Homo sapiens: one gene and its partner. The protein of the gene in region 1 purifies or fractionates together with the protein of each later gene. This does not show direct contact. Each region holds a gene or a part of one and is shown on either strand. Other genes may lie near its edges.

Region 1 (4,052 bases):
TGAGCTTCATGGCTGGGCTTTGGATGACTGTGCCTGCCTTGTGCTTTAGCAGCCCAGGGAGCCTGGCCTTCCATCCCAAAAAAGCAGCGCAGTGCTGGTGCCCCACCCCATAGAGAATGCTGGCCACGTGCTGGTCCTGTGTGCTGGTGGATAGCTGTGTCCTGCGCTGGCATGCCCTGGGACTGTCCTTCACACTAATTAGTGTCACACACATCCCCCCTGAAACTGCTGCAGCCTTTGCTTAAGAAGACTTTAGGTGGCTCACGTCTGTAATCCCAGCACTTTGGGAGGCCGAGGCGGGCAGATCACGAGGTCAGGAGATCGAGGCCATCCTGGCAAACACGGTGAAACCTGGTCTCTACTAAAAATACAAAAAATTAGCTGGACATGGTGGCGGGCACCTGTAGTCCCAGGTACTCGGGAGGATGAGGCAGGAGAATGGCGTGAACCCGGGAGGCGGAGCTTGCAGTGAGCCGAGATCGCGCCACTGCACTCCAGCCTGGGCAACAGAGCGAGACTCCGTCTCAGAAAAAAAAAAAAAAAAAAAGACTTTAGGCCTCTGAAGATGGAATAGAAACCGCTCTGTTCCTGAGCACCAGGGGCTGAGCTTGGCCATCTAGGGGAGGTCCTGGAACCTGCATTTCCCCAGGCTCTCAGGTGACTCTGACACTGGTGTTGGCAGTGAGGGGTCCCTTGGGACCTGCAGTGTTACCATCAGGAAGGAGGGGTCCCCAGAGCCAAAGGCAGCTCCTTCTGGTCCTTGTGCTTGTTGATGACAGGAAGTTGAATGTGGCTTTTAGTTAAAACAAAAAACTGTTCTGGAAACCAGCTTGGTTTCAGCTCATCACTGTCATCTGAACAGCAGAGAAAGAGACACGTGTATGGAAGGGGTAGCATGTGTTCAGTGTATTTTTGCTGTCAGATTAGCGTTTTTTTTTGTTGTTGTTGTTGTTGTTTTGCTTTCTTTCCTCACATTACATTAATATGGCTGTCCATTGTTTTCTTTGTAAAAACTACATTTTATGGCTTTTTCTGACTATAAACTTACCTATTTTTGGTAGAAATTTGAAAAATACAGAGGAGCATAACAAAAAATAATTATTTTTAATATCTTAAAGCTAACCACTATTAACTTTTTTAAAAAATAAAATGTATTTACTTTTGCTTGAGATTAACAGAATTTTAAAAATGAAGTGAAACTCAGTTTACGCTGAACTTCAAATAAATTTCCCTTCCAAGCTCATGACGTTAGTTCCTAAAAGATTGTGGTAAAGTTACAAAAAGGTTATGAAAAATACTGAAATTGGTATTTTTTATTTAACTACATGTTTCCTAAAATGTAGGCTTCAAGTCAATAAACCTTTCACTGTCTTACAGTTGTCTAAACAGATATTAAAAGCTCAGTTTTTAATTTAAAATTGTTTAAAAGTCAAACCTATTTTTAGGATGATTTGTTTAGAGAAATTAACAAGGAAATGTTGATCATTAAGAATTAACACCCCAAAGAGGCCACTCATCTTCAGGGAAGAAAACAAGCAGTCCAGCAGGTGGTGAGCGAATGCAGCTCTTTGAGAGCCTCCGATGGAGTCAAGGAACTGTGAAGAGGACCCCCCAGGGAGGGGGCTCTGGGTTTGCTCCGTGCAACTGAAGGCAGGGAGCGGGAGAATGGGTGCTCTCCTCCTCTGCCTGCTCTGTCTGGAGGGCCCTGCGATGCTGTTTCTTCTCATGTGTGCCCATTCTGCAGGCGAGGAGACCAAGAGCTTGGAGTGCAGGGTGGGGGGCTAAACCCAGGTGTGACTAATTCGAAACACCACTCTCACTTTTTCCTCATTCAAGACGGACTGTTTGGCAGGTGCTAGGGGAGATGCAGGGTGGACTCTAAGACAGGCCCCGCCCACAGTGGTGGGGAGGCAGAGCAGGCCTGGGGCACAGGAGAGGACACCAACCTGAGGGTAAAATGGGTGAGCAGAGGGGCAGGGGATGGGGGAGCAGCTGCAAGGTGGCTGAACTGGCCTAGGGGAGGAGGGAGCTACGTGCTGGGAAGAGTTGGGGAGACCCCGCTGGAGGCTGCTGCTGGGTGCAGAGGGTGATGGTGGTGATGGCCGCGATGACGTCAACGGAAAGAACCCACGGACCGTCAGGCTTGTGAGAAGAAACAAAAGGCACATAAAATCCGTCTGTATAGAAACAATGCCTGGGGCAGGCCAGGCCTGCTCGAGGGGAATGGGGGACCTGCCATGTGCGAGGCTCGCACCAGGAGCCTGCCGGGGCAGCCTGACCCCAGCCCACCACTGCTTCTAATGCGGGGTGGGAGGGGAGGTGGGCCATGCCTGAGACAGGTAGGGAGCTTCCAGACGTAGAAGCTGGAGGTGAGGCAGGGGCGGGCAGGGCCTGATGATACCAGGTGCTGAGCAGGCCCCAGGACACATGGTCACAGGAAGGCAAATGAAACTGTCCCCTAAGGTTGACAAGAATTGCATGCCAGGTTCTGGACAGAAAGATACTCATAATTAAGCTTGAATCAGGCTGCTGCTGGCCCAAGATGTTTTTCAGATCCCAATTCCAGCAACCAGTTTGGAAACCCCCCACGGAGGAACAGGATCATCACGAAAATACAGCTTCTTCCTCTCCCTGTGCTGTGACATCACGCTGCCCCTTCCAGCTATCGAGCTCCAGAACCCTTAAAAACCCGGGCCCCAGCCTCCTCGGGGAGATGGATTTGAGTTTCCTCCATCTCCTTGTCTGGTGATCCTGCGATCACCCTGCTTTTCTGCTGCAGCCCCGTGTTTCTGAGCATCTACTGGCTGTGTGCATGGGGCAAAGTCCTGTCCGGGTGCCCGAGGACCAGTGTGCAATGGGGTGCAGATGTGAAGCTGCCAGGCCAGGGGAGTTGCCAGGGCCTCTGCCCAAGGCAGCAGGGAGCTGCAGTTTCTGACAGCTGCTGGGCATGCCCTGGGCAGGGTACGTTCCTGTCCTCAGAGCATAGGCCCAGTGGCAGAGCTGGCACTAAGCCAACCTGAGGAGAGAAAACATGGGCAGGGATCGCTGTGGTGGCACCAGGCAGACCCTTCCCACCTGCCTTTAGTAGGAAAATGGGTGGGCACAGCGGGGGCTGGCATTGCCCACCTCCTCCCTCTTTCAGGAGTGTTCTAGGTGTGGCCGGGAGGTTGGGAAGCCCCTGCTTGTGAAACCATCCCTGAGATGGGGACCTGGGTGCCGAGAGCTGGACGCAGATGGTCCCTGCTGGTGTCCCTCCCTGTGTCACCTCAGGGGGTGCCCTTTCCATGGGCCAGTACTGAGCTGGGTGGGGAGACCCTTTGAGAGGGGCCCCATCGGCCCCCATCACCCAGAGCATAAGGTCTGCATGGCTGTGCCTGAGCACTGGGGTGTTGGGGGGGTGCAAGTCCAGCTTAGAGGTGCTGGTGTTCACTCTGCCCACCTGGAGACGCTTCACCCCAAGCCCTCTCACATGACACCATCAAAATTCAGAGAGCCTGGGTCCTTGGGGCCACACCTGCCCGCTGTGCTCTTGGGTCTCTGCCTGATGGCTAATGGCGGAGTCTATCTTTTGAGGGCACACACATGCCCCTGGCACAGACAGGACACTGAGCTCTACCAGATCAGTCCCGACCTTAACCCACTGGGACACACCCGGAGTTTGAATTCCAGCTCTGCTTCTCACTGGCTGTATGATCTCAGGCAAGCTGCCTAACCTCTCTGAGCCTCCGTGTCCTCACCTGTAAAATGAGGATGCTGACGACAGTGAGAATATATGAGGCAACATACACGAAGCACTTGTCAATAAATGATGTGCAAAACTGTAATCATTATCAATATATCAAAATGCACATGGCCACAGCAGGGGTCTCAGGGCAAATGAATGCCCCCATTGGGAAAAACAAATCTTGCCACGTAGACGGTGGCTCAGCCTGCGGCAGCTCCCAGTGCTCCCCAGGAGGCAGGAGGTCCCCGGGCTGCAAGTGGTCTCTCTGCTACTGGGAAGTAAGGACTGACATCACCTTGCAGAGGGAAGCTGAAATGGCTCCCTGACC
Region 2 (3,666 bases), on another chromosome or scaffold:
GGGCTCGGCCCCGCGGCAGGCCTGGCCCCAACCGGCCCTTCCTGCCCTTTGCTATGCAGAGCCATCAAGAGCCTGCAGTGGATGGCGGGCGGCACCTTCACGGGGGAGGCCCTGCAGTACACGCGGGACCAGCTGCTGCCGCCCAGCCCGAACAACCGCATCGCCCTGGTCATCACTGACGGGCGCTCAGACACTCAGAGGGACACCACACCGCTCAACGTGCTCTGCAGCCCCGGCATCCAGGTGGGGTGGCCACCCCCAGGCTGCACCTGCCCCGCCTAGGGCGCCCCGCCAGCCAGGGTGGCCTTGTCCCCAGAAAGACGAGGGCAGAGCAGGCTGCGCCACACCGATACTGTCTGTCCCCACAGGTGGTCTCCGTGGGCATCAAAGACGTGTTTGACTTCATCCCAGGCTCAGACCAGCTCAATGTCATTTCTTGCCAAGGCCTGGCACCATCCCAGGGCCGGCCCGGCCTCTCGCTGGTCAAGGAGAACTATGCAGAGCTGCTGGAGGATGCCTTCCTGAAGAATGTCACCGCCCAGATCTGCATAGGTGCGCATGGGGCCACCCGGGCAGTCCCAGATCTGCGTAGGTGCGCGCGGGGCCGCCCGGGCAGTCCCAGATCTGCGTAGGTGCACGCGGGGCCGCCCGGGCAGTCCCAGATCTGCGTAGGTGCACGCGGGGCCGCCCAGGGCCGTCCCAGATCTGTGTAGGTGCGCGCAGGCGCCCAGGGCTGTCCCAGAGGCCTCCTCCCAGCTCACTGTTACCTCCAGGGGCACGGCCACCCTGTAGGTGCGCACGGGGCCGCCTGGGGCTGTCCCACAGGCATCCTCCTCCCGGCTCGCTGTGACTTCCGGGGGCACGGCCACCCCTGTGCTCGGCCGGGAGGTCCTGTGACATCTCCTTGCGGGGTTATAGGTGGAGCAGTGGGCTCACACTGCACGGCTTTTCTCTTTTACAGACAAGAAGTGTCCAGATTACACCTGCCCCAGTGAGTACCTCGGCGGCCGGGACACGTGGGGAGGAGGGCACCGTGGTTGGGGCGAGGGCTCTGAGAGGACGGGGCTCTGGGAGGAGGGCCTGGCGGTCACGAGAGTAGGTGCATGGCTCACTCCGGTGGCTGAGCACCACCGTGCCGTGCCCTCTCTGGGGAGCTTAGACGCTCTCTGGCCGGCCCACTGCGGCTGCATCACCAGGGCCTCATGCTAACGGCTGCCCACCCCGCCCCGCAGTCACGTTCTCCTCCCCGGCTGACATCACCATCCTGCTGGACGGCTCCGCCAGCGTGGGCAGCCACAACTTTGACACCACCAAGCGCTTCGCCAAGCGCCTGGCCGAGCGCTTCCTCACAGCGGGCAGGACGGACCCCGCCCACGACGTGCGGGTGGCGGTGGTGCAGTACAGCGGCACGGGCCAGCAGCGCCCAGAGCGGGCGTCGCTGCAGTTCCTGCAGAACTACACGGCCCTGGCCAGTGCCGTCGATGCCATGGACTTTATCAACGACGCCACCGACGTCAACGATGCCCTGGGCTATGTGACCCGCTTCTACCGCGAGGCCTCGTCCGGCGCTGCCAAGAAGAGGCTGCTGCTCTTCTCAGATGGCAACTCGCAGGGCGCCACGCCCGCTGCCATCGAGAAGGCCGTGCAGGAAGCCCAGCGGGCAGGCATCGAGATCTTCGTGGTGGTCGTGGGCCGCCAGGTGAATGAGCCCCACATCCGCGTCCTGGTCACCGGCAAGACGGCCGAGTACGACGTGGCCTACGGCGAGAGCCACCTGTTCCGTGTCCCCAGCTACCAGGCCCTGCTCCGCGGTGTCTTCCACCAGACAGTCTCCAGGAAGGTGGCGCTGGGCTAGCCCACCCTGCACGCCGGCACCAAACCCTGTCCTCCCACCCCTCCCCACTCATCACTAAACAGAGTAAAATGTGATGCGAATTTTCCCGACCAACCTGATTCGCTAGATTTTTTTTAAGGAAAAGCTTGGAAAGCCAGGACACAACGCTGCTGCCTGCTTTGTGCAGGGTCCTCCGGGGCTCAGCCCTGAGTTGGCATCACCTGCGCAGGGCCCTCTGGGGCTCAGCCCTGAGCTAGTGTCACCTGCACAGGGCCCTCTGAGGCTCAGCCCTGAGCTGGCGTCACCTGTGCAGGGCCCTCTGGGGCTCAGCCCTGAGCTGGCCTCACCTGGGTTCCCCACCCCGGGCTCTCCTGCCCTGCCCTCCTGCCCGCCCTCCCTCCTGCCTGCGCAGCTCCTTCCCTAGGCACCTCTGTGCTGCATCCCACCAGCCTGAGCAAGACGCCCTCTCGGGGCCTGTGCCGCACTAGCCTCCCTCTCCTCTGTCCCCATAGCTGGTTTTTCCCACCAATCCTCACCTAACAGTTACTTTACAATTAAACTCAAAGCAAGCTCTTCTCCTCAGCTTGGGGCAGCCATTGGCCTCTGTCTCGTTTTGGGAAACCAAGGTCAGGAGGCCGTTGCAGACATAAATCTCGGCGACTCGGCCCCGTCTCCTGAGGGTCCTGCTGGTGACCGGCCTGGACCTTGGCCCTACAGCCCTGGAGGCCGCTGCTGACCAGCACTGACCCCGACCTCAGAGAGTACTCGCAGGGGCGCTGGCTGCACTCAAGACCCTCGAGATTAACGGTGCTAACCCCGTCTGCTCCTCCCTCCCGCAGAGACTGGGGCCTGGACTGGACATGAGAGCCCCTTGGTGCCACAGAGGGCTGTGTCTTACTAGAAACAACGCAAACCTCTCCTTCCTCAGAATAGTGATGTGTTCGACGTTTTATCAAAGGCCCCCTTTCTATGTTCATGTTAGTTTTGCTCCTTCTGTGTTTTTTTCTGAACCATATCCATGTTGCTGACTTTTCCAAATAAAGGTTTTCACTCCTCTCCCTGTGGTTATCTTCCCCACAAAGTAAAATCCTGCCGTGTGCCCCAAAGGAGCAGTCACAGGAGGTTGGGGGGCGTGTGCGTGCGTGCTCACTCCCAACCCCCATCACCACCAGTCCCAGGCCAGAACCAGGGCTGCCCTTGGCTACAGCTGTCCATCCATGCCCCTTATCTGCGTCTGCGTCGGTGACATGGAGACCATGCTGCACCTGTGGACAGAGAGGAGCTGAGAAGGCAACACCCTGGGCTTTGGGGTCGGGAGCAGATCAGGCCTCAGTGGGCTGGGGCCGGCCACATCCACCGAGGTCAACCACAGAGGCCGGCCACAGGTTCTAGGCTTGGTACTGAAATACCCCTGGGAGCTCGGAAGGGGAGTTGAGATACTGCAGGGCCCATAGGAAGAAGTCTTGGGAGGCTCCACCTTTGGGGCAGAGGAAGAAGTCTTGGGAGGCTCCACCTTTGGGGCAGAGCAAGAAGAGGGCGGAGGGCAGAGGCAGCGAGGGCTCATCCTCAAAAGAAAGAAGTTAGTGGCCCCTGAATCCCAGAATCCGGGGTGCACGGCTGTTCTGGGGGCCGCTAGGGGACTAAGAGGATCGGCCGAGGGCTGGGCTGGAGGAGGGCAGCAGGGATGGGCGGCGAGGGTGAGGGTGGGGCTTCCTGAAGGCCTTCACCTGCGGGGACCCCGGCGAGCCCCTCAGGTGCCACAGGCAGGGACACGCCTCGCTCGATGCGTCACACCATGTGGCCACCAGAGCTGCGGGAAAATGCTGGGGACC

Evidence for each region.
Region 2: the proteins of CST7 (region 1) and COL6A1 purify together in Homo sapiens (affinity purification with mass spectrometry; one large-scale study listed by BioGRID and IntAct). This does not show direct contact.

What each region holds. Positions count from the first base shown.
Region 1 is NC_000020.11:24,951,942-24,955,993, reverse strand, and holds part of CST7 (cystatin-F precursor), read right to left. Parts: intron 1-4,052. UniProt on the Homo sapiens protein: Inhibits papain and cathepsin L but with affinities lower than other cystatins. May play a role in immune regulation through inhibition of a unique target in the hematopoietic system.
Region 2 is NC_000021.9:46,002,159-46,005,824, forward strand, and holds the end of COL6A1 (collagen alpha-1(VI) chain precursor), read left to right. Parts: intron 1-59; coding exon 60-243; intron 244-368; coding exon 369-552; intron 553-961; coding exon 962-991; intron 992-1,232; coding exon 1,233-1,855; 3' UTR 1,856-2,890; downstream 2,891-3,666. UniProt on the Homo sapiens protein: Collagen VI acts as a cell-binding protein.